7 linked regions of the Homo sapiens genome follow. The protein of the gene in region 5 interacts with the protein of the main gene of each other region in a pairwise test. Each region holds a gene or a part of one and is shown on either strand. Other genes may lie near its edges.

What was found.
Region 1: the proteins of IQSEC1 (region 5) and PRKN interact in binary tests that used the Homo sapiens proteins (3 or more experiments, as listed by UniProt).
Region 2: the proteins of IQSEC1 (region 5) and MECP2 interact in binary tests that used the Homo sapiens proteins (3 or more experiments, as listed by UniProt).
Region 3: the proteins of IQSEC1 (region 5) and A2M interact in binary tests that used the Homo sapiens proteins (3 or more experiments, as listed by UniProt).
Region 4: the proteins of IQSEC1 (region 5) and PINK1 interact in binary tests that used the Homo sapiens proteins (3 or more experiments, as listed by UniProt).
Region 6: the proteins of IQSEC1 (region 5) and SOD1 interact in binary tests that used the Homo sapiens proteins (3 or more experiments, as listed by UniProt).
Region 7: the proteins of IQSEC1 (region 5) and PEX26 interact in binary tests that used the Homo sapiens proteins (3 or more experiments, as listed by UniProt).

Annotation. Positions count from the first base shown.
Region 1 is NC_000006.12:162,255,263-162,259,772, forward strand, and holds part of PRKN (E3 ubiquitin-protein ligase parkin), read right to left. Parts: intron 1-4,510. UniProt on the Homo sapiens protein: Functions within a multiprotein E3 ubiquitin ligase complex, catalyzing the covalent attachment of ubiquitin moieties onto substrate proteins. Substrates include SYT11 and VDAC1.
Region 2 is NC_000023.11:154,031,715-154,036,224, forward strand, and holds part of MECP2 (methyl-CpG-binding protein 2), read right to left. Parts: exon of another isoform or gene 2,210-4,510; intron 844-2,209; coding exon 493-843; intron 1-492. UniProt on the Homo sapiens protein: Chromosomal protein that binds to methylated DNA. It can bind specifically to a single methyl-CpG pair. It is not influenced by sequences flanking the methyl-CpGs.
Region 3 is NC_000012.12:9,074,017-9,078,526, forward strand, and holds part of A2M (alpha-2-macroglobulin isoform a precursor), read right to left. Parts: intron 3,842-4,510; coding exon 3,685-3,841; intron 3,405-3,684; coding exon 3,330-3,404; intron 2,921-3,329; coding exon 2,740-2,920; intron 768-2,739; coding exon 544-767; intron 1-543. UniProt on the Homo sapiens protein: Is able to inhibit all four classes of proteinases by a unique 'trapping' mechanism. This protein has a peptide stretch, called the 'bait region' which contains specific cleavage sites for different proteinases.
Region 4 is NC_000001.11:20,639,958-20,643,457, reverse strand, and holds part of PINK1 (serine/threonine-protein kinase PINK1, mitochondrial precursor), read right to left. Parts: coding exon 3,466-3,500; intron 802-3,465; exon of another isoform or gene 340-801; intron 1-339. UniProt on the Homo sapiens protein: Serine/threonine-protein kinase which acts as a sensor of mitochondrial damage and protects against mitochondrial dysfunction during cellular stress.
Region 5 is NC_000003.12:12,929,929-12,934,438, forward strand, and holds part of IQSEC1 (IQ motif and SEC7 domain-containing protein 1), read right to left. Parts: intron 1-4,510. UniProt on the Homo sapiens protein: Guanine nucleotide exchange factor for ARF1 and ARF6. Guanine nucleotide exchange factor activity is enhanced by lipid binding. Accelerates GTP binding by ARFs of all three classes.
Region 6 is NC_000021.9:31,665,722-31,670,101, reverse strand, and holds the end of SOD1 (superoxide dismutase [Cu-Zn]), read right to left. Parts: intron 3,654-4,380; coding exon 3,584-3,653; intron 2,845-3,583; coding exon 2,727-2,844; intron 1,632-2,726; coding exon 1,524-1,631; 3' UTR 1,171-1,523; downstream 1-1,170. UniProt on the Homo sapiens protein: Destroys radicals which are normally produced within the cells and which are toxic to biological systems.
Region 7 is NC_000022.11:18,087,304-18,091,813, reverse strand, and holds part of PEX26 (peroxisome assembly protein 26), read right to left. Parts: intron 3,843-4,510; coding exon 3,739-3,842; 3' UTR 1-3,738. UniProt on the Homo sapiens protein: Peroxisomal docking factor that anchors PEX1 and PEX6 to peroxisome membranes. PEX26 is therefore required for the formation of the PEX1-PEX6 AAA ATPase complex, a complex that mediates the extraction of the PEX5 receptor from peroxisomal membrane.

The sequences.
Region 1 (4,510 bases), on a different chromosome or scaffold from region 5:
CAATATTGGGCCTTTGTACATGTGAACTAGAAAGCAAAGGGATAACTGAAATGGATAACAGATAGTCAGCACTTGGTATATTCCAGGCCTTTCTCTAGGCCCTTGTCACGAAGTATCTGACATCAACTTCATGAGTTAGGTACTTTTTCCTTATCTCTGTATGAGAAATGGGGAAACTGTGGCCTGGTATGTTTAAAAACAAAACAAAACAGTGCACTATTCACTTGAGGATCTTATTAAAATGAAGGTTACTGATTCAGTAGGTCTGATAGGGGGCCAATGATTCTGCATTTCTGATAAACTCCCAATTGCTGCTGCTGGCCCACAGATCACACTTTGGACTGCAAGAAAGTAAATTCTCCGAGTCCTAGAGGTAGCAAGAAGTAGAGCCAAGACGGGCTAAGTTGCTTGGCTCCGGGGCCCACACTTACTGCCAGTCGGCTTAGCATTTGCATGGCAGACACATCACAGCCCAGGTACCATGAATGCGCTCAAGGATTCAAAATCAATGTCTGTCACCCTTTTTGACTGCATTTTCTAGCAACAAAAATTCTGTATTCAGTGCGTAGTATATACCAGGAACTGTGGTAAACACTGGTTCAAACGATTTTCATTTAATCCACTGAAGTAAATTATCGGCCATTTGATTCCCTTCTTACAGGAAGCAAATCACAACCCCACTGATGCACTGGGACTCTAGTGAGTTTAATTATCATGCACAGAAAAGATTGAGCATTAATTTGCAAAGAATTAGAATCTAATAACACACCTCTAACACCAAAGGTAGTCAACCTTTGGGGATTGAGGAAGAATTGTAAGATCTTACAGAGCATCAGAGGTATCATTTGGAAAATTAATTATAGTCAAATAGATGAAGAAGGTGTAGGAGTTTGGGCCTGATTCTGTGAAATTATCAAAAAGTACTCTAAAAAAGAATGTAGTGATATTTTCCTTGTCATAAGGGTTTCATTTTCTATTATATAATAGATATTTTATTAATTCTGTTTTTCTTACATAAGTAGACCATAAATTCTTGATTTATGTATGAAATGTTTGGAAGCTACAGGTCATACAAAATAACACCTTCTATAAAATTTCACAAAATTTCCATTAGTCCTTATTTACTCAGAACAAATTTAGAAAGATTGAAAAGAGTGTATTACAGACAGTTAAATTCTACCACTTAATTTGAAATTTTTTCTTTATCTTCCCTTTAAGAAAGTGGAATCCAGCAGCCTGCCTGCATTTTTGGCAGACTCTGCAATAATTACGATGCTCAGATGATTCCCAAGATGGACCTCCCCAGCTGTAAATACCCTGCCTCCACGCTCATTCCTGTCAAGTGCAGATCTCCCCATCTTGGCATATGGGCAGTGTCCTCTGAAACACTTCAGGGTTTGAAGAGTAAAAGATGTAAATGATTTGCTTCACTGGCCATGTAGGCCTCCAGGAGAGGGACACCCAGACACTACCATTTGTAGAGGCCTGTCGTTAGAAGAGCACACTGTCCAGCCAGGCCTCATGGAGTCTTGAATGCAATGTCTCCCTTCCCCTTGAAATCACAATATGACCTTGCAGAGGTGACTTCAGAAAAATCAAAACATTTTGAGGCTCCCTACAAGTACTTTACTTAACTTCAACAACCAATGCTGTCATTTCTCACCTACTCTCCCCCACAGTTACTTTTTATTTCTTTATGTTTCAAAACAGATAACCAACCACAAAAAGCAAAACAATTCCCACAGAGGCATGAACCCAAACAGGCACGAACAAAAGCACAAGGTAGACGGGGCCAGCCTCAGCCTGTGCTGCCCCGGCATGGTATTCCTCTCCGCAGCTTTTTGTCAATTGCATGCTGACACTCCTTCCCGCTCTATTTCATGACATGTCTCCTCTCCTTTTGGAAGCATATAAGCAAAAACATGGGGCTGGGTGTGGTGGCTCACACCTGTAATCCCAGCACTTCAAGAGGCCGGGGTCAGTGGATTACCTGAGGTCAGTAGTTCCAGACCAGACTGGCCAGCGTGGCCACAGTTTTTCTTTTTTTTTTCTCAAAAGCAAAAAATTCTGAAAAAGTAGTATACCTTGTGATATAGTTTTAAAATCTGACTACTTGGCTGAAATCAATTAACATGACTCTTCAAAAAGGTCCATTTTAAGACTATATCTACTTTCTAACCAAAACATCTAGAGGAAATGCAAAATTTCCTTTCACCTGATAGCTATATTCAGGAAAACACAGGCTACTGGATATTTTACATAAGCTCTGAAGTGAGACGGTCCCTGGGTACGGCTTGAATTGTCTGGGTCGGTTCCTCAAGTGGTCTCTGCAGTTTCCTCATCTATAAAGAGGATATGAACATGGTCTACCTTACAAGGCTGCAAGGAATTAAAAGAGGTATTTCAGGGAAACAGGGTTTCTATAGTGCCAGGTTTGCGGCAAGCACTCACCGACACCGCCTGCAGGTATGGCCCGTTCGCGATGTTCTGGGCAGTGCAGCAGTTCTAGGATTTGAAAACCTTCCGGGTTGTGTTGCCTCCACCCTTTCCTCCTGCAGTTCCTTCACAAGCAGCCAGCATGAGGCTTCCTGAAGTCAGATCATGTCACTCCATTGTTCAAAAGTCAAATTTTCTCAACAGGGTCAAATCCTGGGCCCAGCAGACCCTACCTGACCTCTCCACCCTGCCCTTTTTCTGACATCCTCTTCTCCGAGCTCCACCTGCTCCAAGCTCCACCCCATACTGGCTGCTGCGTTTTCTGGGCGGGGGCCTGCCTGGGGCTCACGAGTTGCTGTCGCCTCTGCCATTTGGCACACAAATGGATGCTCCCTGAGGGTGCCCTCCTCACAGTTTAGCTCATCACACAGGCCTCGCGGCTGCTGTATATTACGGAACTCCCCACCAATACTCTTTGTCCCCTTGACTCTGCTGTTTCTCGATAGAACACACACTTACTAGCTGCTCCAAATAGAATAGCTCCGTTGAGGTAGGCATCTTGTCTGTTTCTATTTTCTGCTACATCCCAGTACCTGGCACTGTGCTTGGCACAGAGTAAGGACTCAATCGTTATTTGTTTATGTAGTTCGTTAACTGTATGACGGATATTGGAGGAGCCTCCTATTTTTTTGCTAGGTCCAATAGCTTCATCTCATCTGTCAGGAGATGATGAATGGCGCCTCATTTAGGAAACACCAATAACACATGAAGGTAATTTACACACAGGCACCCTGGAGCCCAGGTGCAGCTCAACGTTCTTATTGAAAATGTAGTAAAAATAGATTTTATTCACTGACCATATTTTAAGGAATACTATTTTTTACTATTTCGGGCAGTACTACTCAAAGCACAGCCCCTGGGCCCGCGGTGTTAGCATCACCTGGGAGCTTGCTGGAAACGCAACTTCTCAGCTTCCATCCAAGGCCAACTGGTCTGGGCCCAGTCATCTGTGCTTTTATAGGTCCTCAGGTGATTCTGATGAGCACTAAAGCTTGAGTGGCACTGCTGTAAAAACTACTTCAATGACTCGTTCCAGTTCTTTGACGTCCTCTTACAAGTCTTTAGTGTGACATGCTTGCGTTCTTAGTACCAACAGTGTAACTGGTTCTTCATGTACATCATGTTATCACCTCTCATGTTGACCACTTATCTTTTGCCAACTAAAAATACTTGAAAGGCACCTTCTCGGGTTTCAGAAGTTTCCATTTGTTTCGACAACATATGAGGCTACAGCCCAGCTATTCACCCATTAGAGCCCTCCCACGTCCAGCCAGCACTTATATTCTTCGAAGTTAAAATTGAAGACTCTGGAAGCACAGAAAATTGGGATTTCTTTTAATCTCTTTTTCTGAGGCACAGGTTTTCAAACATTGTATAACCAAGGATTTTTTTCATCTTTTCAAATGATAGATGTTTTATGTGTTTAATATGTGAAGTACGTAAAGAGGAATGGTCTCAGGCTGCTGTGATTGGCTTGGTGTGTTCACCTCTCACCGACCTGCCTCTGTTCTCCCACCCAGCGTCCGATTGTTCCGTGAGAACAACAGGTAGGATCCATAATTGTAAGGCTGGAAAACCTTAGCCATAGGGCAGAGTTTCTCAGAGTATGGTCAGTACCAACATTTTGGGGCCTCTACCCCCAGACAAATACATCAAAATTTCTGGTCACAGAAAAAGAATGAAAGAAGATTTTTTTTCTCGCCATTCTGGCCATCAAAGAAACATGGAAAAACATGCAAGATAATTCTGCACATGAGAGTCTGTGAATCTCTGCTCTAGTAACTTTACGCTATCATTTTTAGTGAAGAAAAATAATCATATAGGCATACTGTTTGCATATAGTCATTTCAAATCATTCCATTCAGTCTTAACTCAAACCAAGAATGAACCAAGACATTTGAAGAGATGAAATCTCAATTTCTCTGTATAATTTTAAATAAAGCATTCGCTCTAAAAGCTAAATGCACAGGAGTTCTGTTGAATGACTGACTATGTTTACAATTTGAAGCAATTT
Region 2 (4,510 bases), on a different chromosome or scaffold from region 5:
CTGGTTGGTGCCTGGGCCTGAGTCACCATCTAGAACATTCCCAAGTTTGAACTCAGGTACGGTGCTCAGTCTCTCCAGGAATCAGTTTCAACAAGATAATCCTTTGCTCACCCTTCTCATGGAATTAAATGAGGCTGTCTGCAAATGTCATTTGAAAACTGCTAACCTTTTTGGGATCATTTAAAAGGCAGAACTGAAACATGCTTCTTCACCCCTCTGAACCCCTAGCTCTGCAAGTTCCTCTGCTTCCGCAGCTATTCCATCCCCAGATAAAGACTTGAGGTGTGGAGAGGATAGAGGGCCTGCTACCTTGAGAACTTCCCACTCAGGGCAGCGACCTCTGTACACGGTCATTTCAAGCACACCTGGTCTCAGTGTTCATTGTTTATGTTCCCCCCGACCCCACCCTGGGCACATACATTTTCCTGCTCCATGAGGGATCCTTGTCCCTGCCCTCCCTGCCCTGTAGAGATAGGAGTTGCTCTTACTTACTTGATCAAATACACATCATACTTCCCAGCAGAGCGGCCAGATTTCCTTTGCTTAAGCTTCCGTGTCCAGCCTTCAGGCAGGGTGGGGTCATCATACATGGGTCCCCGGTCACGGATGATGGAGCGCCGCTGTTTGGGGGAGGCAGAAGCTTCCGGCACAGCCGGGGCGGAGCCTGACCCTTCTGATGTCTCTGCTTTGCCTGCCTCTGCGGGCTCAGCAGAGTGGTGGGCTGATGGCTGCACGGGCTCATGCTTGCCCTCTTTCTCTTCTTTCTTATCTTTCTTCACCTTTTTAAACTTGAGGGGTTTGTCCTTGAGGCCCTGGAGGTCCTGGTCTTCTGACTTTTCTTCCCTGAAGTGTTAAACAAGTATGTAAGTATCACAGAGAACATGCCAGTCTGCAGAACAAGTGAGCAGAGGCAGGCTTGGACCCCCACCACATGCAAGGCCCCAGGCCATCATACACTCAGATCTTGATGTCCTTCCCCAGGACAACAGAGACTCGGGCCAAGCTGGGACCCAAATATTTCTTTAGGAATTTGGGCTGTGGGTGGTGCTGGCCGGTGTGCCTGACCTGCACTGTGGCCACCCACAAGTCTCCTAGCACTGCAGGAGAATCAGAGCCCTTTCCTCTGAGCGGAAACACTGCGGCTCCTGAGCATACCACCCCAGCATGAGTCGCACTTCAAGGGACTCTGGGCTCGATGGCTGACAAGAGGCCGTCGACTGCTGGAAAGGGAGCCAAATGGGGGAGGGGTCTCCTTTGTGAAGGCCGGGCCTTGGGTGTGTTTTTGGTTTTCTAGAATGAGGCTCAATGAGGCACACAGTACAGTGTCATGGAAAGCACACACAGGTTTGGAGCCAGCCAACCTGCACTGAAATCCTTTGCCGCTTTCCAAACATGAACCCAGCAAATGACCTCAGCATTCTGTGCTTCAGTTTCCTTATCTTGACAACAGGTAACCCCATCTAGGCATCCTTACTGTGAGCATCACAGGAGAAAAGGCACAATGGCACTATATAAATATCAGCTAACTCAGGCCACAGGAAACTACCGCCTAGGGTCCTGGGGGTGATAAGACAAGTGGTCCCAGGTGGCGTGAGCCTCTAACACATGTTCCCTGATGAGGAATGGCCTCGGCCACAGCAGATGCGGAGGGAAGAGCAAGGAAAAAGGTGTGGTCCAGGCAGAGCCATACATCCCCTTCCTGCCGGTGGAGAAGAGCACCCTACCTATTCTAGTGTGGGAGGCTTCCCCGTTCTTTTCTGGTGACCGAAGCAGCTCCTTCTCTACACATCACTTTGGCCCGGTGGGGTCTCGTCAGAAATGGCCACCGTGAGGCCCCACACCCCAGCATCACTATCTGGCCATGATGCTCTAGTACTCTGTCGAGTATGCCACCGTGAAACCTCCTAGGACTCCAGAGCCTCTGCAACAACAGGGGCAGCTTGGAAAGAAGCAGCAGCCACCTGCGAGTCCCTTCGTTAGCAGTTCATTCTGGAAAAGAGCATGACTACTCCCACCCTCCGTGTTCTCAGCCCCACAACTCCCCTGTCCCATGTGGTTCACATCAGTGCTAGTCACCGCCTTGCGGCTGGTCTACCCCAAGAGACTTCCCCTCTTGTCTACACTGCACAGACTGTGCAATGAGGGCACCATGGCACTCACTGGCAAGCATCCTTAGGAAACCAGAACTCAAATGATGTAGGGAAGTTACCAAAGGCTGCTTAGTGCTGGGACTCAGAAGCTGCAAGGACGTATCTCTCCAGAACCATCAGGTCAGGTGTAGGGAGGCAAGAGATGTTCCAATCTAGTGACAAGGTCTTAGAGTGAGGGAATGTCTTGTCCCCACCATGACTCACCCCTGAGTTCCTCCCTATCCTGTATCTTCCTCCAGAAGTTTAGGGCCCAGAGTGTGGCTGCCAGAGTCACCTAGAGCCACTGCATACACAAAGGCATCCTACAACCCACAGAGCAGTCTTTCTTGCTGTAAAGAGGGGTCCCTAATCTGTCCCAGCACAGAGCTCGCCTTGTTTTGTTTTTTGTTTTTTTTTTGAGATGGAGTCTCGCTCTGTTGCCGATGGCATAATATCGGCTCATCGCAACCTCCGCCTGCCGGGTTCAAGTTATTCTCCTGCCTCAGCCTCCGGAGTAGCTGGGATCACAGGCGTGTGCTACCACGCCAGGCTAATTTTTGTATGTTTAGTGGAGACGGGGTTTCACCATGTTGGGCAGGCTGGTCTCGAACTCCTGACCTCAGGTGATCGACCCGCCTCAGCCTCCCAAAGTGCTGGGATTACAGGCGTGAGCCACCGTGCCCAGCCAGAGCTTCCTTTTCATGTCTCTGAGTCTTACAGCTCTCAATGGGAAATGACGAAGAACCCTGGAAAGCTAGGTGTGGCCTGTTGCCCACCAGAGATCAGCCTTTGAGAATGGACCCCTAGGCAGCTCCCCAGCTCCCCATAAAGGAGGGAGGGAAGGGGAGCCACCAGCAGAGTGGGCCAAGAAAGCAGACAGATGGGAATCGCTACTTCTACACAATCCATCATGGCACTGCCTAACGCCAGGGCTGCTCCCTAGAACCCGGACGGTCCTAATGTCAGAGAAAAACAGTGAACTAATGGGAAAGATCTGGCTTCTTCGAAACTCTCATTTGCATTTCCCAAATACCTTAATCACCATGAGGTCAAACTATAAACCTAAACGTGACGTAAGGAATGCCTTCTAGAAATCTATGCTAAAGAGACACCTCCAGAAATCTCAAAGAACATATGCATGATGTTATTTGCTACAACATTATTTTTACCAGCCAAAGGCTTCCAATACCCCCGATCCCTATCACCAGGGCACTTGCTGAATAAACTTATGGTGCGCCCACACACTGGAGTACTGTGCAGATCCAAAGGGACTAAACAAGAGCTCTAAGAACTGCGATGGAGTCATTTCCAGGATCCACTGTGAAGCAAAGGGAGCAAAGCGCAAACATATCTACTGCATTCTACCAAAGAAAGAAGGGGGGGTATTAAGGAAGGACACACCAGGAACTAATGAAATTGATTCCCTGCATGGGGTAGGGGGAAAAAGGTAAGGGTACAGGCACAGGAGTGAGGCCTAGCTGAACATGCCTCAGTGTAATTCTGACTTCTGAATCATGTAAATGTTTATATTACCCAAAATAAAATTCAAACTAAAAGTAACAAAACCTTATTACACTTAATGCAAATAAAAACAAATGAGTTCGGGCCAGGCATGGTGGCTTCAGCCTACGATCCCAGCACTTTGGGAGGCCGAGGCGGGTCGATCACCTGAGGTCAGGAGTATGAGGCTGCAGTGAGCCATGACTACATCACTGCACTCCAGCCTGAGTGACAGAGCAAGACCCTGTCTCTCTCTCTCTCTTTTTTTTTTTTTGAGACAGAGTCTTGCTAGAGTGCCATGGCGTGATCTTGGCTCACTGCAACCTCCGACTCCTGAGTTCAAGCCTTCTCCTGCCTCAGCTTCCCGAGTAGCTGGGATTACAGGTACCTGCCATCACGCCCGGCTAATTTTTGTATTTTTAGCAGAGACGGGGTTTCACCATGCTGGCCAGGTTGGTCTTGAATTCCTGACCTCAGGCGATCCACCCACCTTGGCTTCCCAAAGTGCCGGGATTACAGGCATGAGACACCACGCCTGGCCAAGACCCTGTCTCTTAAAAAAAAAAAAAAAGAAAAGAAAAAAGAAAAGAAACAAATTTAATTCTATATCAAATTGACAATATACCACAGAGAAAAGATTTATTTCAAATGACTTTTGACTACAGTGCTCTGCAAACCTGTAGTGGGACATATTCTAAGGCCAACAATAACACTCCAGGGGCAGTAAACACACTAGATTGGCTCCCAGGAGAGATATGTGATTCTGCTTCTGGGGCATCTTGTGCCAGAAAGCCCGGGGAGTGCAAGAGAAAAACAGGGAGGGCCCATGAGAGGCCTCTAGCAGTGGTCCAGGTGTGGCCCAGGGTGGGGGCAGTTGAGGA
Region 3 (4,510 bases), on a different chromosome or scaffold from region 5:
GATGGAGGTTGCAGTGAGCCGAGATTGCACCACTGCATTCCAGCCTAGGTGACAGAGCAAGACTCTGTCTTAAAAAAAAAAAAAAAAAAAAGGTGAATAGGGGAAGCACAAAATGTGTAGTTTTGAGAAAAGCCTATTAAAGGGGACCTAAGAATGGAGAGATTTGCGAGGAGAGGTTGTTGGATTTTGAGTAGAGTTCCTTTGAACAGTTTGAAAGAGACCCTAGAGCTTTCAGGAGAATGGCAGGAGACATCTCCTTCATTCTGCTGGTGCTCCACTGCTGCTTGAGGAAGGCAGTGTTGTTATGGGAAATAGGAGATGGATAATAACACAGCGATGGGGTGCCGGGATTCTGAGCATTTCCTTTTGGCCCTCTTTGACTTTGATTTGCTTTTATTTCCATTATCCTTGGATACTGAAAACTTTTCCTCATTTCAAGTTACTGTCATCTGTATTTTTTTCTTCTTGGATGTGTTTGTTTCTTTTTCATTCAAATCTTTTGCTACCTGAAGGTGAAATAAAAGGTTTTGGCAAATCACCAACCTGGGTGGAGGAGAAACCGCCCTGGGCATTCTGCTGCTTCGTGATCCACTTCACGATGTTGGTTGCAGAGGTCAGGTCCTCCGAGGTTGGGGCTGGCTGGGCCGTGAGATAAGCGAGGAGCACATAGGATGTCATCTCCACCTCAGCAGAGGGAGCCTGGGGTTCGTAAAAATGCCCCACTGGTGCCTTGGGTTTCTGAGGGCGCTCCCAATGGACAGAGTTGTCTTAAAGATGAGAAAAAGATATTTATAAGTGCCTACATATTTATATTTAATTCAAGGTGAAAGTACCCAAGCCAGTGCTGAAATGAGAATTGCATGCCCATTATAATCCCCTGTACTGTATGTAGATGCTTTTCCCTTCATGTAAATCTGAATTTGGTGTGTTTTAGCCCAGCTAAGGCAGATATTGATGCTGGAGTCAGAAGCCTATGCCTATCTATGTTTTCAAATCGTTGCTATAGTCGGGTTGGTGGGAGAAAGAAATGGCACAGCAGTTGTCTCATTGAGTCTGGCTATTTCCTATTTATGATGTTATATTAGACTATAGCTGGAGTTTGTTACATTTCCTATAAAGTGTGTCTTTATCAGTTTCTTGTGAGGATCACAGATCACATGAAATAGTAGAGTTTCTACTCATTAAATTGAAAAAAAAAATACAGTAATCCTTGAAATACCAAAGGCTGACATGGATGTGAAACAATGGGAACCAATATACACTGCTGTGGGAAGCCAACTGCTCTTTGGCAATATTCAGCAATGGGGAAGATGTGCTTAGCCCACTAATCAGTCATTATGCTTCTCAAAGCATAATTTGGAGAAACACAGATGCACAAGAAAACAGGCACATGAGTATTCATTGCAGCATTTTTTTTAATAGCAAAACATAAAAAAAATCCATGAGGAGAAACTCGATGTGTAAATTATGACTAATTTATAGACTGTAATATATTATGCAGCAGTGAAAATTAATGAGCTGACTCTGCACATACTTGTATAGGGGTCTTCATCAACATAGTGTTGAACTTAGAAAATAAAAAGCAGACAAACAAAAAACTAAGCTGCTGAAATATTCAAAAATGTTTCTCTTGTTTCTTGAATAAGAGAGAAATAAAAATCTTGTTTCTCTCAAGATGAAACACATGTGAAGATTCTAAATATTAGTTAGGGATACATATGCAGCAAAAATATAAGGAAATCCATGGAATTGTAACGACAAATTCAGGATAATGATTGCCTCTGGAGGTGGTAGTGATACACAAGGGATTTATTTTTCCCATGTCGGTAATTTTCTATTTCTTAATCTATGAGAGAGTTGTACAGTGTTTTCTAGTTATAGCTTATGCCCTTTTGTATATCTATTATAAAATATTTCTCAATACATTTTAAGAAGAATTAATGGCTGTCAAAGGAAAAAGGTAGACTGTTTTAATGGACATCTTGTGATTTGCATTTTATTTTCTATTTCTTCAACCGCTCATATAGACCATGGTATATGTAGAAGTACTGTGTGAATATGAGTAGATTGGTCAACATTATTGGTCTTATGAAATGGGCTTAAAATACCAGAATTCATTCAAGGAGTTACTTCCATGATTATTTTCTTATGTTTAAGGTTATATAATGTACCAGGTAAGGGTTGGGCATATATTGAGAACTGATATGTTAATTGTAATAACTAGTACTTTTATAGGATTTGCTATGTGACATGTACTCTACTAAGTGTTTTACGTGTACCAATTCATTTATTACAACAGCTCTGTGAGGTAAATACTATTATTATCCCCATTTTACTGATGAAGGAACTGAAACACAAGGAAGTTAATGACTTTCCCAAGCTCACATAGGTAGCACATTTTGGAGCTAGTCTCCAGAGAATGCTCTTCTTACCAGCATACTATAGAGATGGTCCCTGACTTACAATGGTCCCACTTAAGATTTTTTAGACTTTACAATGAGTTTGTCAGGATATAACCCCATCGTAATTGAGAAGCATCTGCACGGCCTCTTGTCTTCTGATTTCTGATTTGATTAAGAAATCCTAGATTTTATAAGATGCAATATGGACAAAATATATATGATATATAGAAAAGAAGAGAGGAGACAGGGATCACAGGAGGTAGGAGTGAGGGATTTTTGCCATGCAGTTCTTGATACAGAGGATGGGCCAGGAGAAGGATCTCAGGTGTGCTCTCACCTTTCTTCACAGCTTCCTCATTAAGTGACTTGAGTACTTCCTTCCTCTTGTCCTGGTTACCTGCCAGGGCAAAAGCATAGGCCAGCAGTGCTTTGGTATATACATGGCTGCCATGGTCCCCTTCTTGTGCTGTCTTCCAGGCTGACTCCAGGCAAAACAGGGCATTGCGGACAACAGGGTGCTGTGAAGGCAGAACAAGAAGGGAACTAAGCTATGTAAACAGGCATATTAGCATTCCCAGGCAAATACACGGATCACAGCACAGAAGTTTTTCAAACGCATTTTTCCAACGATTCCTCATTCTTATCAATAGATATAATATTATTTTTATCTGTTATTCTCACATTCAAAAGATACATCTTTAAGATTCTTTTTTGAGTGGTGGTGGTAAATAGCCTAGGGGAATTACTGGGAAAATTTAAACCTTTCTTAATGGGCTGACCAAATTCTCTGTAGATCTGGGAAGCACTGGCATTGCATAGAAAGAAAGCTGATGCTTTGCTTTTAATAGGATAGTATTTCAGACAGCAGGTCAGCAGTTTCATTGCATCCAGAACTCTCCTTCAGCAGAGGAATGGGGTGGTACCTACAGTGACTGTGAGAGGAATCTCCAGAAGGGCGATGGTGATATAGGCGGAGAGGGTCACTTCATCTTCTACTCCTCCCTGTGAATACGAGAGAGAGATCTGAATAATTCAACTTCTGAGAATGCTATTGATTAGTTCTTTCTATTCTGCTGTGTCATGGAATTCATCCTTACCCATATCCATCCCTATAGGGCAAAGTATCACAATCAACTTTTGTTCTATCCCCTCTTTTTTGGTGCCATCCAGGTTTTATTTTCCTCTGAGGCTTTCCCTTAGAATTTTTCACATTATCACTTCCTATCCTCATCCTTGCAGATATCATAATGGACAAATCAAAACTAGCTCCAGAATGATTCACCTTTATGGCATTGTTGAGCAGTGACCCAGAGCTCCTGAAACAGCCATTGTCCTTCTGCCTCTGGGAGAGCCATATGAGGGCTTGGGTAATGTGTGCTTCATCGATGAAGATGTAGGCTCGAGCTTGGGCAAAAGTCTTCAGAACAAAGGCTGTGAGCCTGACCAGGGAGGAAGCAATCATGATGTTTATGTTGTCAAAATGGTTTTATAACCACTTCACAGCAACAGGCTTCATATGATGTGAGTTAGCTAACAAAATTCTTGTGTACTTAGAGAGCTTATCTCCTTGATTAATCTTTAGTCTGCCTGATTAATCTGCTAGATGTAGTATTTCCTTGCTAACTCTCTCTTTGCCACAGGGAGTCTTAGTATATTTAATTTTATTTTAGTTCCGAGATACATGTGCAGAACGTGCAGGTTTGTTACATAAGTATACGTGTGCCATGGTGGTTTCTTGCACCTATTGACCCATCCGCTTAGTTCCCTCCCGTCACCCCACACCTCCCAACAGGCCCTGGTGTGTGTTGTTCCTGTCCCTGTGTCCGTGTGTTCTCATTGCTTAACTCCCACTTATGAGTGAGAAATGTGGTGTTTGGTTTTCTGTTCCTGTGTTAGTTTGCTGAGGCTGATGGCTTCCAGCTTCATCCATGTCCCTGCAAAGGACATGATTTCATTTCTTTTTATTGCTGCATAGTATTCCATGATGTATATGTACCACATTTTCTTTATCCAGTCTGTCATTGATGAGCATTTGGGTTAGTTCCATGACTTTGTTATTGTAAATAGTGCCGCGATAAACATACATGTGCATGTGTCATTATAGTAGA
Region 4 (3,500 bases), on a different chromosome or scaffold from region 5:
ATATGGGTGTAATAAACCTTTGTTGAATAAGTGAATAGATCCAGATGCAGCTAGTAGTGGTAGTGTCATCTGCCTGCCCTGGCTGCTCCTTATCCTGTGGGGAGCGCCCCCCGACCCCCAAACCACAGCCCTGCTGAGGCACAGTGGCTGGATTTTGGATGGGGTGGCTCTGCCAGCTGTGTGCCAGCCCTGCCCTTCAGCCAAAGCTGACTGGCCCAAGGAGTCACCTGCCCCAACGGCAGTGAACCTACAGTGACACTCGAGACCCAGATGGTTGGACGAAGGGAAGGGAGGGAAGTAGATTCTCTTTTTGGGAGTGTGAGTGAAGAAATCTGCCAGTCTGCAGTGGAGAGGAAGCCACGATACTTCACTGGGGCCATGAGGAGCCAGAGGTGAGCAGGCCAAAGGGAAGCAGGAACAGGAGATGCGAGGAAAGAACAGCATGTGGACAGTGGAACCACGTTCCTACAAGTTCAAGAATCAGTAACTGATGGAAATTCCCGTGGCTCACTCCTGTAATCCCAGCAATTTGGGAGGCTGAGGCAGGCAATTGCTTGAGCCCAGGAGTTCGAGGCCAGCCCGGGCAACATGGAGAAACTCTGTCTCTACAAAAACTACAAAAATTAGCTGGGCATGGTGGCATGTGCCTGCAGACCCAGCTACTTGGGAGGCTGAGGTGGGAGGATCACTTGAGCCCAGGGAGGTTGAGGCTGCAGTGAGCCAAGATCACGCCACTGCTCTCCAGCCTGGGCAACAGAGTAAGACCCTGTCTCAGAAAAATAAAAGAAAATTTGAGTTTGCAGAAACCACTTTCTGAAAGGCTGAAACTCCCTCTGCTTATGAGATAAAAGAACTGGCTGAAATTGGTTGGAACCAATAAGGCCAATTGCAGCTTGCACAGAACAAGTTTGCTGATGTCAAAGCCTGAATTGCCACTGCACGTTTCATACTCACTCCTCCCAAATCTGCACAGGGGACCCATGAGTTGGCATGAACAGATAACTGTGCATGTCCAAGGACTGTCCAGACTTCTCCTTTCCTTCCATCAATCACCTGCTAATCTTAGAATCCACCCCTTAAACCTCCTCTAATAAAATTACCGCCTTAAAGCTAGCACAGGGAGACAGGGTTGAATTCAACTCCTGTCTCCATATGAGTCGACTCACAATAGAAAGCTTGGCTTTTCTCAAAAATCCAGTGTGACTGCTTCTAGCACATCAGGCTAGAGCCCCCTTTGCTGCATAACAATGGTGGAGGGAAGCGAATGGGGCAGAGCCTAGACGGTGCTGGGGAGAGAGCAGGGCACCGGCCTCTCCCAGCACTGCATGGTCCCCAGGCTGTGTGGCTGCAGTCCACGTGTGCCCACGCGCTGCTCCTGCTCTTGAGTCAACCTGAGTGGCCCCTGTTCTATGCAATCAAAGGAGCCAGAGCATCGTTTCCACCCTCGGGCCCCTGGGCAAGTCATGATCACAGCCCCAGGCTGTCAGGGCCCCAGCAGGTGTCATGGGAGCTCAGGGGCAGAGGAGTATGGCTGTACTGGGGAGATACATGGTGGGGTTGCGGGTGTCTGAACTGAGACCTGAAATGTGGGAGGAGGGCAGCCCAGGTATAGCCAGCTGTACGCTCAAGAGATGGTCACAGAGAAGCCTGGCACATTCGGGGAAGGAGCTATGAAGCCAGCGTGGTGGAGTGTAGGGTGCTGATGAGAAGGGTGAGAGATAAGGCGGGAGACGTGGTGAGATGAGCAGGTTAAGCGCCTTCAATCTCTGGGCCCCAGGAGAGCAGAGGCTAGGAGGAAATGAACCCAGGGTGTTCTTGGGAAAGCTTCTCCCAAGGTGTACCAGAAGTTGAGGTAATGTACCTGCTGCCACATCTATCCGGTCATTCAACAGGTATTTACTGAGGGTATGCAGTAAACAAAGAGTGTTTACAGTACAGCTGGAGCAAAAAGGAACCAACAGAAAAAGACGTGTTATTTGAGGCCAGACAGTGAGAACTGCTAAAGGAACAAAGTCCCTGAAGAGGGACAGGGACTATGTCAGATGGGAGGTCTCAGCAGCAGACATCATGGTGCTCCGGCAGCAGGACAGCACCACGTCGGCCGGCTGCCACTCATGCCACAAAAGGAGGCATCAAGGATCATGTTAGCCCCAAAGCAGCTGACATTCAGGTGTCCACTTTCTCCAAAAAGGCCTCAGGAGAAGCAGCAGCCACTTGAGCAGCTACCTCCACCGGCCTGCAGGGACTCCCAGTCACATTGGAAACCTCCAAACCATGGAAGGGGTTTTCCACAACCACTCCCTTAATTTCATACTTTTGCCTCCCTGCTTCTGACAGAATGAAGATCTATAAACCAGCCCTCCAGTAAATCACCAAAAATGCAGCAGACCCACCTCTTCTTGGTGGGTCTACAAATGAGAGACAGGGTCTCACTCCAGGGTCGCCCAGGCTGGAGTGCAGTGGCATGATCTTGGCTCACTGCAGCCTCAACCTCCCTGGACTCAAATGATCCTCCCGCCTCAGCCTCCTGAGTAGCTGGGATCACAGGCATTTGCCCCCATGCCCGGCTAAAATTTATTTTTTGTAAAGGCGGGGTTTCACCATGTTGCCCAGGCTGCTCTTGAACTCCTGGGCTCAAGTGATCTGCCTACCTCAGCCTCCCAAAGTGCTGGGATTACAGGCATGAGCCAGGCTGTAAATATTGAGGTGGGCACAAGTATCTCCTCTGTCATAGCCTGCGCGTCAGTCCTCACCACCTGTGGTGAGGCTGGTGGTGGACATGGGCTTTTCTGAGCTGAAAGCGTAGCTGCTGTTCACTTGCTCTTCCCTCTGCTGGGAATGCCACTTCCCTACTCCTCTGCCCAAGTAATGCCAATTCATCCTTCACAAGGTGGCACAAACTGTCCCTTTGAGAAGGCTTTCTGAGCAGCCCCTCCTCTGCAGCACACGCCTCCCCTGGGCTCCCTCAGCCCAAGCATACTCGATTCTAGCACTTACACCCTGGGCTCTCTGCTGCCACACTGAGACCTCTGGGCCAACAGACCACTTTTTGTTTTTTTTAAAATCTCTTGGCACCATCAGTGCACATAACTATTAGTGAAATGAGTGTTCCCTCTGGTGGGGACAGAGTTCAGTTTATTCCGATAGGTGGCGCTCTACCCGTGCATTTCTTAGGAGGAATCTGAGAACCCCAGTCAATCATGCAACACTGTGAACTGGGCATTTTTGGGGGGCCTCCTCTCCCCTGCTCCAATGTGAATTACGCAAGTGCATCATCATTTGGGGTCAGATTACCTGCAATCTTTCCCAAGTGAAATTATCCACTAACTGAAAATCCATCACCAACATTAAGCCTTTATTATCTACTGTCATATCAGACACTGTACCAGGTGCTGAGGACATAAGTGATGGATGAAGTTGCTCTCAAAGAAGTCCCAGTCAGTCTGGCAGGCAGAGGGCACTTACCTGTAAGTGACTGCTCCATACTCCCCAGCCAAGGC
Region 5 (4,510 bases):
CAGATGACGATTCAGATTCAAGTGTGACAGGTAAGCACAGACTGCACCAGTCACTTCCTGCACACGCATCTCTCATCGTCTTTCAGCGGCAAGCTGAGCTGCTGGTGGGAAGAGTGAGCTGTGTGAGGCTCTGAGGAAGAGCTGCTGCAAGGCTGTGGATTGCACGTGGGGAACACCTACCTGCTGGAGCAAAGCACTGAGTGCTTACCCTGGTATTTTCCCAGCAGGGGTGTGCAGGATCCAGGAAAGGGTTCTCTCTCTCTCTTTTAAGACCCAGGTCTCACTATGTTGTCTAGACTGGCCTCAAACTCCTAGTTTCAAGTGATCCTCCCGCCTCAGCCTCCCAAGCAGCTGGGACCACAGGCATGTGCCATTGTGCTTGGCTCCAGTCCTTTTTAACTGTTCAGGATGCCTAAGAGATGTGGAAGTGGATGGATGCCCAAGCACCTAGCTTCAGCCCCCAGGTTTCCCAGCCTACCCTCCAGCTCAGGCCCTAAGACCTAGTGGGCAGATTCTACTCTCTGCTCCAGGCCAGTCAGAGCCCTGCATCCTGCTTGCCCAAGTGGTTCAGGGAGAGGCACAAGAGCCAGAAGGAGCCGATGAGGGGAGGAGAATCTCTCTTCCTCCTACTGGGGTTGCCTTGAGGTCAGACTACAGGCCTGGGGTTCTCTGATGGCCCTCCTGCCCTGGGTCAGGGAGGATCTGGCAAGGGGCAGGGCCAACCCTAAGCCAGATGGAGCCAAGAAATACCCGGGACTTTTCAGGTCCGTGAACCAGTAAAGCCTCTTTGCTTAACCCAGTTTGATAGAGTTCCTGTCACATGCAACAGAGAAGGCCATGATTAACGCAGAGACCAACACAGGGTTTGGAGTGCCCGAGGATCTCCGTGGTCAGAGGTCTGAGCCCTGGTAACTGTTAACTGCTTGTGGGGGTGAGGATAGACTCACCAACTTCAGCATTCGGAGAGTCCCTGCACACCTGAAAATGCCCTTCCAATGCAGCAACCTAGGGTCCTGCAGAGAGGTGCCACTTCCAGCCTTTCCCACACTGCCAGGGCCAGCAAGCTCGCCACCTCCGGAGGCTGCCTGCTCCACCAGCTCTGACTTTTACACGCACTTTCTGGTAGCGTGAACCCAAGTGGCTTCCCTGGTATTGATCCCAGAGAGAAGGCAGGAGAATCACCCTCTGAAGTGTGGCAAGCACCCCCTGCAGGGCTTCCCTTGGCACTGTCTTCTTCTCCAAGACTCAGCACCAGCCACCTCAGACCCAGGCCAGGGCTCGGGATCCTGGGCTGCGGGTAGCATCAAGGGCCACAGGCCACAGTGGCCTGTGTCTAGGGGAGAGGGGTCCCAACCTCCAAAGACCCAGCTCAAAGTGCTCCTAAGAGAGCCCATCCTTTCCATCATCAGCACCACAGGCTACGGGAGCAGCACTGCACATCCTCTGGGCCCAGCACTTCTGGTGTGTGGCCTTGAGCTTGGGCCTGGGCTCTCAGCCTCGCTGCCTGCACCTACGCTTCCCAGGATGGCTGTGGCGAATCAGTGAGACAATAGGCGGAAGGTGTTCGGCATGGGGCCTGGCGCTTGGTCCAGGCTCTGCACAGGCCGGCTCTGCTCACTGCTATTTTTATCAATGACAGCAGACACGTTAAACACAAGGAGCACAGAGCTGGAGCATGCAGATCAGGGGTACTCTCTGAGCCCTGTTCCCACAGGTGGAGGGGAATGGCCCCCTGGGGGCGCTGGAAGGGTGAAACAGCCACGCTCCCTGCAGGATCCCAGTGACAGCATCCCCTGCCTCCCTTCTGCAGTAGCTCCAGCAGGTGGATGGGACCCGAGGCTGCTGGGCCCCAGGGGCTGGGCGCCGAGTGTAGGGGAGGCCAGGTCCACAGAAGGGGGCTGCCTCCAGGTACAGGGCCCTGTGCTGGAAGGGCCTCAGAGGCCCCTGTGGAAAGCTCTTAGCCAAGTAGTCCAACCACACTGTCACACCAGGTGGCCACCCAAGCCCTGCGTACATGTTTCTCAGAGACAAGCTTCTCACTCCTTTTTGAGGGTGCCCGTGTCATCATGAAGCAGCTCTGGGGCCAAGGATGCTCTTGCAGAGGTGGGAGAGGTCTGGTGTGGCTCACCTGTGACATGGTCACCTGGGCTCATTCCAGGGAGGAATGTGACAGACAGAAAGTGGACATAGCCAGGCATGTACCCCTGACGGTGTGTACCAGGTACAGGAGCAGGAGACGCTGGGGTGGGGTTCCAATGCGGAGGTGACAGACTCAGTGAGGTCCCTGCTGGGCACCTGCCCCAGCTCCATGTGCTGCAGGGCTGCATGGCGTCCCACAGATGGTGTGGCTCTGCCTCCTGGACTCAGTTTACAGATCTGTCACCCAGTGAGGAGGTAGGGAGCCCAGGGATACCTGTGGTAGCAGTTCCTACATCATGGATTTTAAGAGGATGTGTTCAGGAGCCAAGTGGCCAGGGTGTGACGTCCCTAGTCGTCTACCAACTATGTGAGACTCAGCTCACCCACTGCACAGGGTAACGTGCGTTAGCGCGTGACAGGCCCTGGGAACCATGCCTGGCGCACCGTCAGCACATGGAAGGATTAGCTATTCTCGTTATTTCTGACTGCTTGGCCCATCACAATGCCTGTTTGGGTCTTCCTAAAGCCCAGCCCTGGAAGCTCCCTTCCCTTGGCACTCTGGACACAGAAGCCCTTGCTGACCACAACAGCTGCCATCCACTGCACAAACATGTTCCGGGTGCAGGCAGTGAGGCTCAGAGAGTTCAGGGAGTTGCCCCAGGTCCCACAGCTGATAGGTGGCAGATCCAGGACTGAAACCCTCCTGCCTCTGGCTCCTGCACCCCTGCCCTCCCGCAGCACCGCCAGCCAGATCAGCTGTGTGGCTGTCAGCTGGGCCAGCTGGGAGTAAGCGGCAGATGCCCAGAGGAACATCTGGAGGCCTGGTAGACCTCGGCAGCCCCCGGGATGCCCTCCCCACCAACCTACACCACTTTCTCAGGCTTCGTTTCTGTTCTTCCTCCCCGCTTGCTGCTGGCTCTCCCACTTTGGTACATGATTCCCTTAAAGGGGGCGTCCCCCCAGACAGAGGCCTGTGCCAGGAACGCTCACTGCTTCGTTGCTAGGAAGGGGTGGGAACTGAGAGCTGTGCTGGAGGCCGGGCAAAGGCCGGGACATACCACCCCGCAGGGAGAGAAGTGGAGGTGGTACACAGGCGCAGGGCCAAAGAAAGGGAAGGGAAAGGGCAGTTCCTCCTTCAACTAAAAACGTGCCTAGCTAAGACCCAGCAATTCCACTTCCAGCCATATGATCTAGAGGCCTGCCAGGTGTGTGTGTAAGGATCACAACCACTGTCACACTAGTGCTAGTTATGAAAAGCTAGAAGCAACTGGCCAAATAACCTATAGCCACGGCGGGGACTACCACTCAGCAGCACACAGGAGCAAGACAGCCTGTGTGTAGAGCCCAGCGATACCCTCATAAGACAATGTCACAGTCCCGCGCCCTGAGTGATGTCAGCAAGGATCCAACAGTAGCAGCTAATACATAGTAAGGCCCTATCCTGTGCCACGTCCTGCTTTCAGCACTTCACACAGACCAACGCTTTACCCTCACCGCCCTGGGAGGAGGGTGCCCCTGGCATCAGCCATTTCACAGATGCGGCCACTGTGGGACGGGGGGTTATGCTGCCCAAGGACATAGAGATACGATGGGGCACAGCCAGGATTTAAAGCCAGGCAAGCAAGCCCCAAGCTGTGTTCTTAACCATGGCTGTCTAGAGTTCCTAGAAGTGCACACAAATGCACAGGAAAAAAATCTGGAAGGAGAGACTGCAACATGCTGAGTCCAAGAGGATGTTATCCTGAGCTGCAAGGCATGCATTTTCTGTGAAGAATGTATTCACGTGCTACACAGATAATTAAAAGTTAACTGAATAAGAAAGAATCTACACAGACCAAAGCTGGCTGGTTGAGGGAGGTGGTTTTTCCTGGTTTCCTGTCTCCCCACTGCTGGCCTCCACCTGTCCACTCTGCAGGGACCCCTGGTTATCCCAGCCTCCCCTCTAGGGCACATGGGCCTGGGTCGAGAGATGATCCTGGAGCTCGGCTGTGCCCAGGAGCAGTGGGGACAGACTTCAGGGACCGTGTCAGGTGGGCCAGCAGGATGCAACCCTCCCCTGTCCAGCGCATTGCTCCGGCCGTGGCCTGTGCAGCAGTGAGAGCAGCCGTACTCTGCAGCAAGCCACAGGCAGATCACAGGCTCAGGAGAGAGCATCCTGGTAGATGTGAGATGTCCAAGACTCTTTGTTCTTAGCTGAGCAAACCAGTAAGCCATTGCCCCTTACTGGCCCCAAGTGAATGCACCATTCCCCAGAGGCTCTTCCTGAGACAGGCCTCTCTGACATCCCAAGATAGTGCTTCCATGTGTCCCAGGAATGGCTCAAAAGCACCATCTCCCCCAGTCTAGAAGAAGAGAGAACAGGGGGCAGACG
Region 6 (4,380 bases), on a different chromosome or scaffold from region 5:
ATATATCTAGGGCAATGTCCTTATATTCCTGCCTTTAGAAAATGAGAGAAAATTGTTTTATATTTATCTGTAAATTTAAATTATAAAACTTGTCCTTAATTTTACACTGGCCCACTGAGAAGTTTTAAAGTCCTAACAAATGGCTTCTGGAAGAAAACGTGATTACCCAACATCCAGACTTGAAGGACTTACAGCCTGTATTTCCAATTTAAAGTATTGGGACCATCCTATATGCACATGTAAAAACTGGTAGTGTAATTATATTTGAAGTTTCAAAAGGCATAAGTGAGTCTCTAATTGAGTTATTCCACATAGGCAACAAACTACATTAGGGAAATGTGTTAAATACTGCTTTTTAAAAATTCTCTACTGAGATTTAAAGAATGGTTGTTTTAACCACTTACTGTGAACATACTGTTGTTTACCATAATTTTAAAACTTTGGAAACACTACAGATTTGTCTTCCAATTTAGCTTTTCCTCTCCTAAATGATCTCTCCTACATTTGATAAAGTACATATTTATGAACAAACAGCATTTCACTTATTTCTGGTTTATCAGAAATAATATTCTACAATTTCCAATTGAATAATTTAGTCAAACCTGAGTTAGGTTAACATTGAAAAGCATTCTCTCAGGTACATAAATACATTAAGAGAAAGTGACTCATTTCACTAATTCGGTGTGTAAATTATTTCTCAACAGCCAGAACCCACAGTCAAACATTTCCTTGGTTCCATCTTCTAATGCTACAGATTGCTTTAAAGGGCTAATCTGTAAGTAGGTTGTGCCAGCGTCTACCCTTGAATGTAGAATTTGTGCCATTCTGGCAGGTAGATAATCTTACTAGCTAGCTGAGGCTGTAACTTGCCTTTCAAAGCTCACTAAAAAGTTATCAAATGGCTCTCTTACATCATAATGTCTTTTTAAAATGAGGAGGTACTTTATGAATCAAAATGCTAAAATGACTAAGCAGGAACATTTCCCTAAAGCTTTCAAAGGACAGCCTATTTGTCTAAGCAGAGTTGTGTTAGTTTTAGCTAAAAGACCTGCTGTTTTAAAGTATGCATTTTGATGGTCTCAAAACACTTTCAAAATAAAATGCTATCACTGTTAGTATTACTAAATCTGTTCCACTGAAGCTGTTTATATAAATAAGTATCAGAGCTAATTTAGTTTGAATTTGGATTCTTTTAATAGCCTCATAATAAGTGCCATACAGGGTTTTTATTCACAGGCTTGAATGACAAAGAAATTCTGACAAGTTTAATACCCATCTGTGATTTAAGTCTGGCAAAATACAGGTCATTGAAACAGACATTTTAACTGAGTTTTATAAAACTATACAAATCTTCCAAGTGATCATAAATCAGTTTCTCACTACAGGTACTTTAAAGCAACTCTGAAAAAGTCACACAATTACACTTTTAAGATTACAGTGTTTAATGTTTATCAGGATACATTTCTACAGCTAGCAGGATAACAGATGAGTTAAGGGGCCTCAGACTACATCCAAGGGAATGTTTATTGGGCGATCCCAATTACACCACAAGCCAAACGACTTCCAGCGTTTCCTGTCTTTGTACTTTCTTCATTTCCACCTTTGCCCAAGTCATCTGCTTTTTCATGGACCTGTAAAAAATTTTAAGAAGATAACTTTGGGCTGTCAAGTAATCACTACCTCCTCCCAACAATACCCAAAAGATGTTTAAGAACCTCATAATATTAGAAAAATAACATTAATCCTAGTAGAGAGATATACTAATATTTAGTAGTTTAAAAGTAGAAACTACTACTCAAAGCTTTTTCTTGGTGTTGCAAAGACATTACCTTTAAACATTAGGTAAGTGTTGCTGTCTAAATGAAATACTAAAACCCAAATAACTATGTTGTAGACCACCACACGCTACCCTTAATCCTCCATGGTAAGTTACAGTAACCTTAGTTCCGCAGTCACTCTTACTTTGGCAGTTTTTTTAATTGCTTTGGAAAAAAAGGAAAGTGAAAGTGAATAAAACTCAAAATTTCATGCCAAATGAATGACGGGCCTATAAGTAAGGTATAATCCTAAAAAATCTTAATACTTTAAGCAACAGTATTTTGAATTTTGTTCAACAAACCTTTATAAATGATTTTTCTGCTTTACAACTATGGCTCAAGAAAAACCATAAAAATAAAGGGTTAACTGAATGGAAGTGACTACTGAATGTTAATGCCCTCAAGGGGAGGTAAAAGAGAGCCTGTCTACTTGGTGTTTTGCAAGAACCAGATGCAGTTCCCCAGGATAACTTGGGACAACAGCTTCCCACAAGTTAAACAAGTCATGATAACCTGCAGTCCTGAATGAACATGAATGAACATGAATACTTAAGTCCATCCCAGGTTTTAAACTTAACAAAATGTTCTGTTTAACAAGTGAGAAACCCAATCCTGGCAAGAAAATCTGGCCATTTTAAAACTAAAGACTACTTCTGTTTTCCAAACTCAGATCTAATATGGTCAAATGTAACCTGCTTTTTACTGCATCTTAGCAGAACAGTGTTCTTAACTGACCTAGATAAAATAATTCATTTTCACCGTAATTGTCCAATAAAATTGCTTTTCCTAATTTGAACTGCAAGTACAGTTTATCTGGATCTTTAGAAACCGCGACTAACAATCAAAGTGAAAAGATACATGACTGTATGTTAGAAGAAGTTTTATGCATATCCTTTTATGAAAACTTACCACCAGTGTGCGGCCAATGATGCAATGGTCTCCTGAGAGTGAGATCACAGAATCTTCAATAGACACATCGGCCACACCATCTTTGTCAGCAGTCACATTGCCCAAGTCTCCAACATGCCTAATAATGAAAAAGCATCAGATGGATTAGGGCTGATGCCACTAAACATCAAGGTAGTTCATGAGCTAAATTAAAACTTGACTGAGTAGACACAAATTTGCAAACAAGTAGCTAGGCATTCTAAATACAGCTCTTCAAACAAGGCTTCACGTCTACACACTAATGCTCTGGGAAGAAAGATGGGGCTGCACCTGATTTCAGAAGTACCAAAGGGTAAACTCTCAGTTACTGAGTTATGCCTGTTAATTACTGGCATAGCTAACAAAGCTATGTCCCAAGGCCTCTGATATAAAAATCTTGTCCTTAAATTTAATATTTTTCTGAAAGGCTTTCAGAAAACATACACATATAAATGGAGTCTCGACTAGTTTTCAGTATCAATTTTTTTTTTTATCTACAGAAGCTTCCTATGTTTCACAATGATGATTGATTTTGCTAGTGGTTGACAGTACTGTTCATGACATTTCCTGTATTAGTTCCCCTTTGGCACTTGTATTAGTTCTATATTCAATAAATGCTACAAAACCAAATCGTTTTAAGTGTCCCCATTTGTCAATTCCTTTAAGCCCAGGAAGTAAAAGCATTCCAGCATTTGGGAGCAGGGGTTTAGATGAGTCAGCAAGTTCAAAAGCAAAGGTGGGGGAAACACGGAATTATCTTAGCACATATTTACAAGTAGTATACCATATGAACTCCAGAAAGCTATCGCCATTATTACAAGAGTTAAGCATCTTGTTACCTCTCTTCATCCTTTGGCCCACCGTGTTTTCTGGATAGAGGATTAAAGTGAGGACCTGCACTGGTACAGCCTATTTATAAGAAGAAGAAAAAAAAGCTAAATTATGAATTAAAGTTCCCAAATACATTCTAAAAAGAAACACTGCTAAAACTTCCCATGGAGAAAGTGCTGACCTGCATCACGACTTCTGGGATAAGCAACACCTTGGTACAGCCACAGTGAGAAGGGAACAGAAACAAGTCTATGGCCAGGCATGGTGGCTAACACCTGGAACCCCAGCACTTTGGGAAGCTGAGGTGGCTGGATCATCTGAGGTCAGGAGTTTGAGACCAGCCTGGCCAGCATAGCAAAACCCTGTCTCTACTGAAAAAATACAAAAATTAGCTAGGCGTGGTGGTGCGCACCTATAGTCCCAGCTACTTAGTAGGCTGAGGCAGGAGAATCGCTTGAACCTGGGAGGCAGAGGTTGCAGTGAGCTGAGATCGCACCACTGCACTCCAGCCTGGGCAACAGAGCAAGACTCCATCTCAAAAAAAAAAAAAAAAAAACCCCACCAAGTTCTAACTACTGTCTGACACTTGTAAAGTTAACACCCTTCTCTGGGCTTTGGCTTCTTCACTGTAAAAATAAGGGACCAGACTGATCTTCAACAGTTTTTCTATTATTAAAATCCCATGGTTATGATCCAAATTCTTAAGAACGTAGTATACTTTACAAAAAACTCATCTCCCCAGCAACATATGCCAAGCAGTTCTATCTGTGCCCTTTACTTGGTGCAGGCAGAATATTCAACAGCA
Region 7 (4,510 bases), on a different chromosome or scaffold from region 5:
GTACTTGTAGGCTTTGGAAAGCATGGAGGGGTTTCCACATATTAAAAAGGAAAAGGGCACCAGGTCTGTGCTCTGTGACCCCATCACGCAACGGAATGACACACAGCTATGAAGAATGAGGCTGCTCCACATATGCTGGGACTGAGAAAGGTTTTTGTGTTTTGTTTCGTTTCTGAGACCAAGTTTCACTCTTTGTTGCCCAGGTGGGAGTGCAATGGCGCGATCTCAGCTCACTGCAACCCTTGCCTCCCGGGTTCAAGTGATTCTCCTGCCTCAGCCTCCTGAGTAGCTGGGATTACAGGTACCCACCACCATGCCCGGCTCATTTTTTTTTTGTATTTTTAGTAGAGATGGGGTTTCACCATGTTGGCCATGCTGATCTCGAACTCCTGACTTCAGGTGATTCACCCACCTTGGCCTCCCAAAGTGCTGGGATTACAGGCATGCGCCACCGCGCCCAGCCGAGAATTGTTTTTTTTCTTTTTAAACGTGGCACAGTGTGTGTAGTGTATGTGACTACTATCATTTGTGTAAGAGAAAGAAAAGTTTACTATCAGAGACTGTATCTGGAGGGATAAACAGACTGGCAAGGGTTGCCTCTGGGCAAGAAACTGGGGAATAGAGAGCGGGAGTAGAAAGACTGTATTAGCTGGGTGTGGCAGCACACACTGTAGGCCCAGCTACTCCAGAGGCTGAGGGGAAGACTTGCTCAAGCCCAGGAGTTCAGGTCCAGCCTGGGCAACACAGCAAGACTAAAAAAAAACAACTTTCTTTTCCAAGAATACCCTTTTTGTAACTTTTGAATTCCGTATTTTTTAATGGTCTATGGTCTACAAACACTCATGTGCAAACACATACACGCAGAATAGGGATCACCTGCACGAAGCTATGAACTATTTCCTCATCCCTTCTAGCCCCTTCCTAGAGGCGAACCCTCCGCCCCCACCCCCAGGCACTATCTGTCCTGCTTGCACCCACCTCCACCCAGGGCTGGCCAACAATAGCCTGTTTCCTCTCCATTCCACCCCTCTCCCCCACCCTCCCATCCCACCACAGAAGAGGATTACTGGTTCCTGCTTTCCTTAGCGCCCCTAAATTTAAAGGTATCTGTTCTATGTTGCATGCTTCAGAACCCTGTAGAAACAACCAGCAAATCCACTGTTGATACGCAATTACCCCTCTTGGATGCATCTGCAACAAGCACTCCCCAGCTTCGAAGGGGCAGCAAAGAAGTTCACAATTACAAGACCATGGGGTCACGACCACAGAAGCGATATGAAACAGGTCCCGGGACACAGGGAGGGGCAGAAAGAATTCTTTGAGTAAGCCTGGAAGGTGGAGGGGCTCACCAGGCCAAGAGCAGGTGCTAGGCCTTCAGTAGGAACAGTGCGAGCCAAGGCACAGAGGCCAAGGGGAGCGAGCTGTAGCTGTGATGGTGGGCAGCTGGAAGGCCGCACATATAATCAACAGGGGACCCACATCAAAGGGGAGATCTTAGCCAAAACCAGCACATAGGGGCCTTCAATTCCATGAAGAATTTAGATGTTATCCAGTGAGCCATGGGAAGCCATTGAAGCGTTTTATCTAGGGTAGTTAAGTGGGCCCAGATTTTCATTTTAAGAAATCATTCTATAGAAGGAATCTCAAACCTCACCTGACTGCTTTTCTCCCCCCAGGGTTCTAAGCTTTACTTAAAAGCCCATATAAAAAAGTATAGATTTGCTTCCTACAGACTTGAACCATGCCCTAAGGATTTAATTCTAAGGGGCCTGTGAAGTTTACCTACTTTACTCATTTTTCTAAAGAAAAGTTGGCCGGGCGCGATGGCTCACACCTGTAATCCCAGCACTTTGGGAGGCCTAGGTGGGTGGATCACAAGTTCAGGAGATCGAGACCATCCCGGCTAACACAGTGAAACCCAGACTCTACTAAAAATACAAAAATATTAGCCAGGCGAGGTGGTGGGCACCTGTAGTCCCAGCTACTCGGGAGGCTGAGGCAGGAGAATGGCATGAACCCGGGAGGCGGAGCTTGCAGTGAGCTGAGATCACGCCACTGCACTCCAGCCTGGGTGACAGAGACTCCATCTCAAAAACAAACAAACAAACAAACAAACAAAACAAAAGAAAACTTGTTGCCTTGCAACCCCCGAAAATGTACCAAGGAAAAGCTAGCAAGCACCTTCTCTATTTTGGGCATCAACACCAAGGACACAGTGCAGGGCAGCCTGCTTGGCCTCTGGGTAGAGAAAGGCCAGCCCCTGCAGAAAGCCCTTCTTCATCCTGACAGCACAGCAGTGCTCTACGCTTCCTTGCACAGAAACTCATAAGATGCTTGTGGCTGGTGAGAAAACAACACTGAAACATTTCAGCTCCTCAAATGCTAAGGCCTCGGTGCCACCTCCCTAAGGTTTTATTGTTCACTGCCTTCAAAACCCATGTCTCCCGTCTGCCCCGCCCCCCACATCCCTTCCAGCTCACCTGATTACTCAGTTCCATTTTCAGCTCAGCAGCCTCTGAGGCTGGCCTACTTTTCAAGGCCACACGAGCAGAAAAATTTGGGCATTACACAAACAACAGAACATAACTAGGACAATGGGACACAGAAAGGGAAGAACCTGAAATGGTGTGTACCAAGGAGGCAAGGATACAGGCAGAACCTGGTGAAACAGCCAAGGGACAAGTTTGCAGGGCGGGAGGGAAGGGCTGGCGGGGAAAGAGTGGGCAGAGGCACTGAGCGTAACAGAGCAAGACTTGGCCAGGACAACCTGGAAAATTGAGCTGAAGACCAAGAGGCACCAGGCAAGATCACTTTACCCAGCGATAAGAGCTGTAAGGCTCACTTGGTTTTCAGTAGTCAACCCGGTGGTTCTGAAAACCACACCCCAGCCTGAACAGTGAGAAGGCTCCTGCAGCTTCAAGCGCATGGCAAGACCATGGGAACAGCCTATTGATACAGAATTAGATCAGCTCTGGGGAGCACAGTGCAGGCAAGAAGAGGCCCTCTCAGATCTACTCTAGCTAATTAAGGTACTGTCCTGTGGGGCATGTTTTTTTGTTTGTTTTGAGAGAGTGCGGTAGCACAATCTCAGCTCACTGCAACTTTTGCCTCCCTGGCTCAAGTGATTCTCCTGCCTCAGCCTCCCAAGTAGCTAGGACTATAGGCGTGCACCACATCTAGCTAATTTTTGTATTTTTAGTAGAGATGGGGTTTCACCATGTTGGCCAGGCAGGTTTTGAACTCCTGGCCACAAGTGATCCACCCACCTCACCCTTCCAAAGTGCTGGGATTACAGGCGTGAGTCACCATGCCCAGCAAAGAAGTATGTTTCTCAAGAAGTGAAAGGCCAAGGGTCACTTCACCAGGCTTTTTCTGAACTTCCAGCTCCATTAACATCCTGACCTGAAGAACCAACCCCTTGCCTTCACCAAGAAGATGGAATGTTTCATGGACACAGTCCCTGTCCCCAAACCCCTCCTTTTCAAGGGGCCTCTGGTCATCCGGGGCACTGTTCTGGAGGTGCTGTGCCTGCTGGTCCTGCTTTGTTTCCACATCATCTACCGCGACCAGCCGAAGTAGGGTGCAAAGGAGAGGGCACCCAGGCAGCAAGACACAGTGCACTCCGCGAGATTAGGCTGGTCCCATTTCCCCAGGGGCGCCTGTGGATGTGTCGCTCTGTCGCTCTGCTTCTGTGGCCACGGACGTGAGGAGCAGAGAGGCTGTGGTGCGCAGGGACCCTCAGTCACGGATGCGGAGCTGGTAGAGGCGAGAAAATGCAGCCTTCCGGATCCAGCGGAAGAGCTGGGCCAGCTTGTAGAGGAAGTGCAGGGAGGAAGGGGAAGCTGCAGGGCAGAGGGAGACTACAGTGAACGTCCCACCCCTCTCACCTGTCACTCTGCCATCTCCCACCCTGGGAGACTCCACTACCAATTACACATAGTTGGTTTTGTTTTGTTTTTTTTAGAGACAGGGTCTCGCTCTGTCACCTAGGCTAGAGTACAGTGCAGTCTGTGTTCAGCTCACTGCAGCCTCAATCTCTGGGGCTCATGCGATCCTCAGCCTGCAGGTGCAGGTTCTCCTCCCCCACCATCATCACTCCAATGAGTCGGGCCTGCTGCTGAGGGTCAGGGCCACTGGGCCAGGCCCTTCTGAAGCAGCCTTGGAAAGAGCAGGCTCAAATGTCCTCATGCCATCCCCACTAGGAGACCAGGGTTTACGAGACTAAAGGGCTTACGGGAACCATAAAGAATCATAAAGAGTTTCTAAATCTGTATCAGTCAGGAGGTGGCCAGGGATGAACGCTGATGATACTGAGCATTCCGAGCGCTAACTCGTGACTTCTTTGTAAAGCAAACAGAGTCGTCCACAGGGGATCCCTGCTCAGCATTCAGCAGACGGGTTAGAAGGACAACTCTGAGCTATGTGACGGAAACCTCGCTGGCCAGGCATGATGGCTTGTGCCTATAATCCCAGCACTGTGGGAGGCTGAGGTGAGAGGATCACTTAAGGC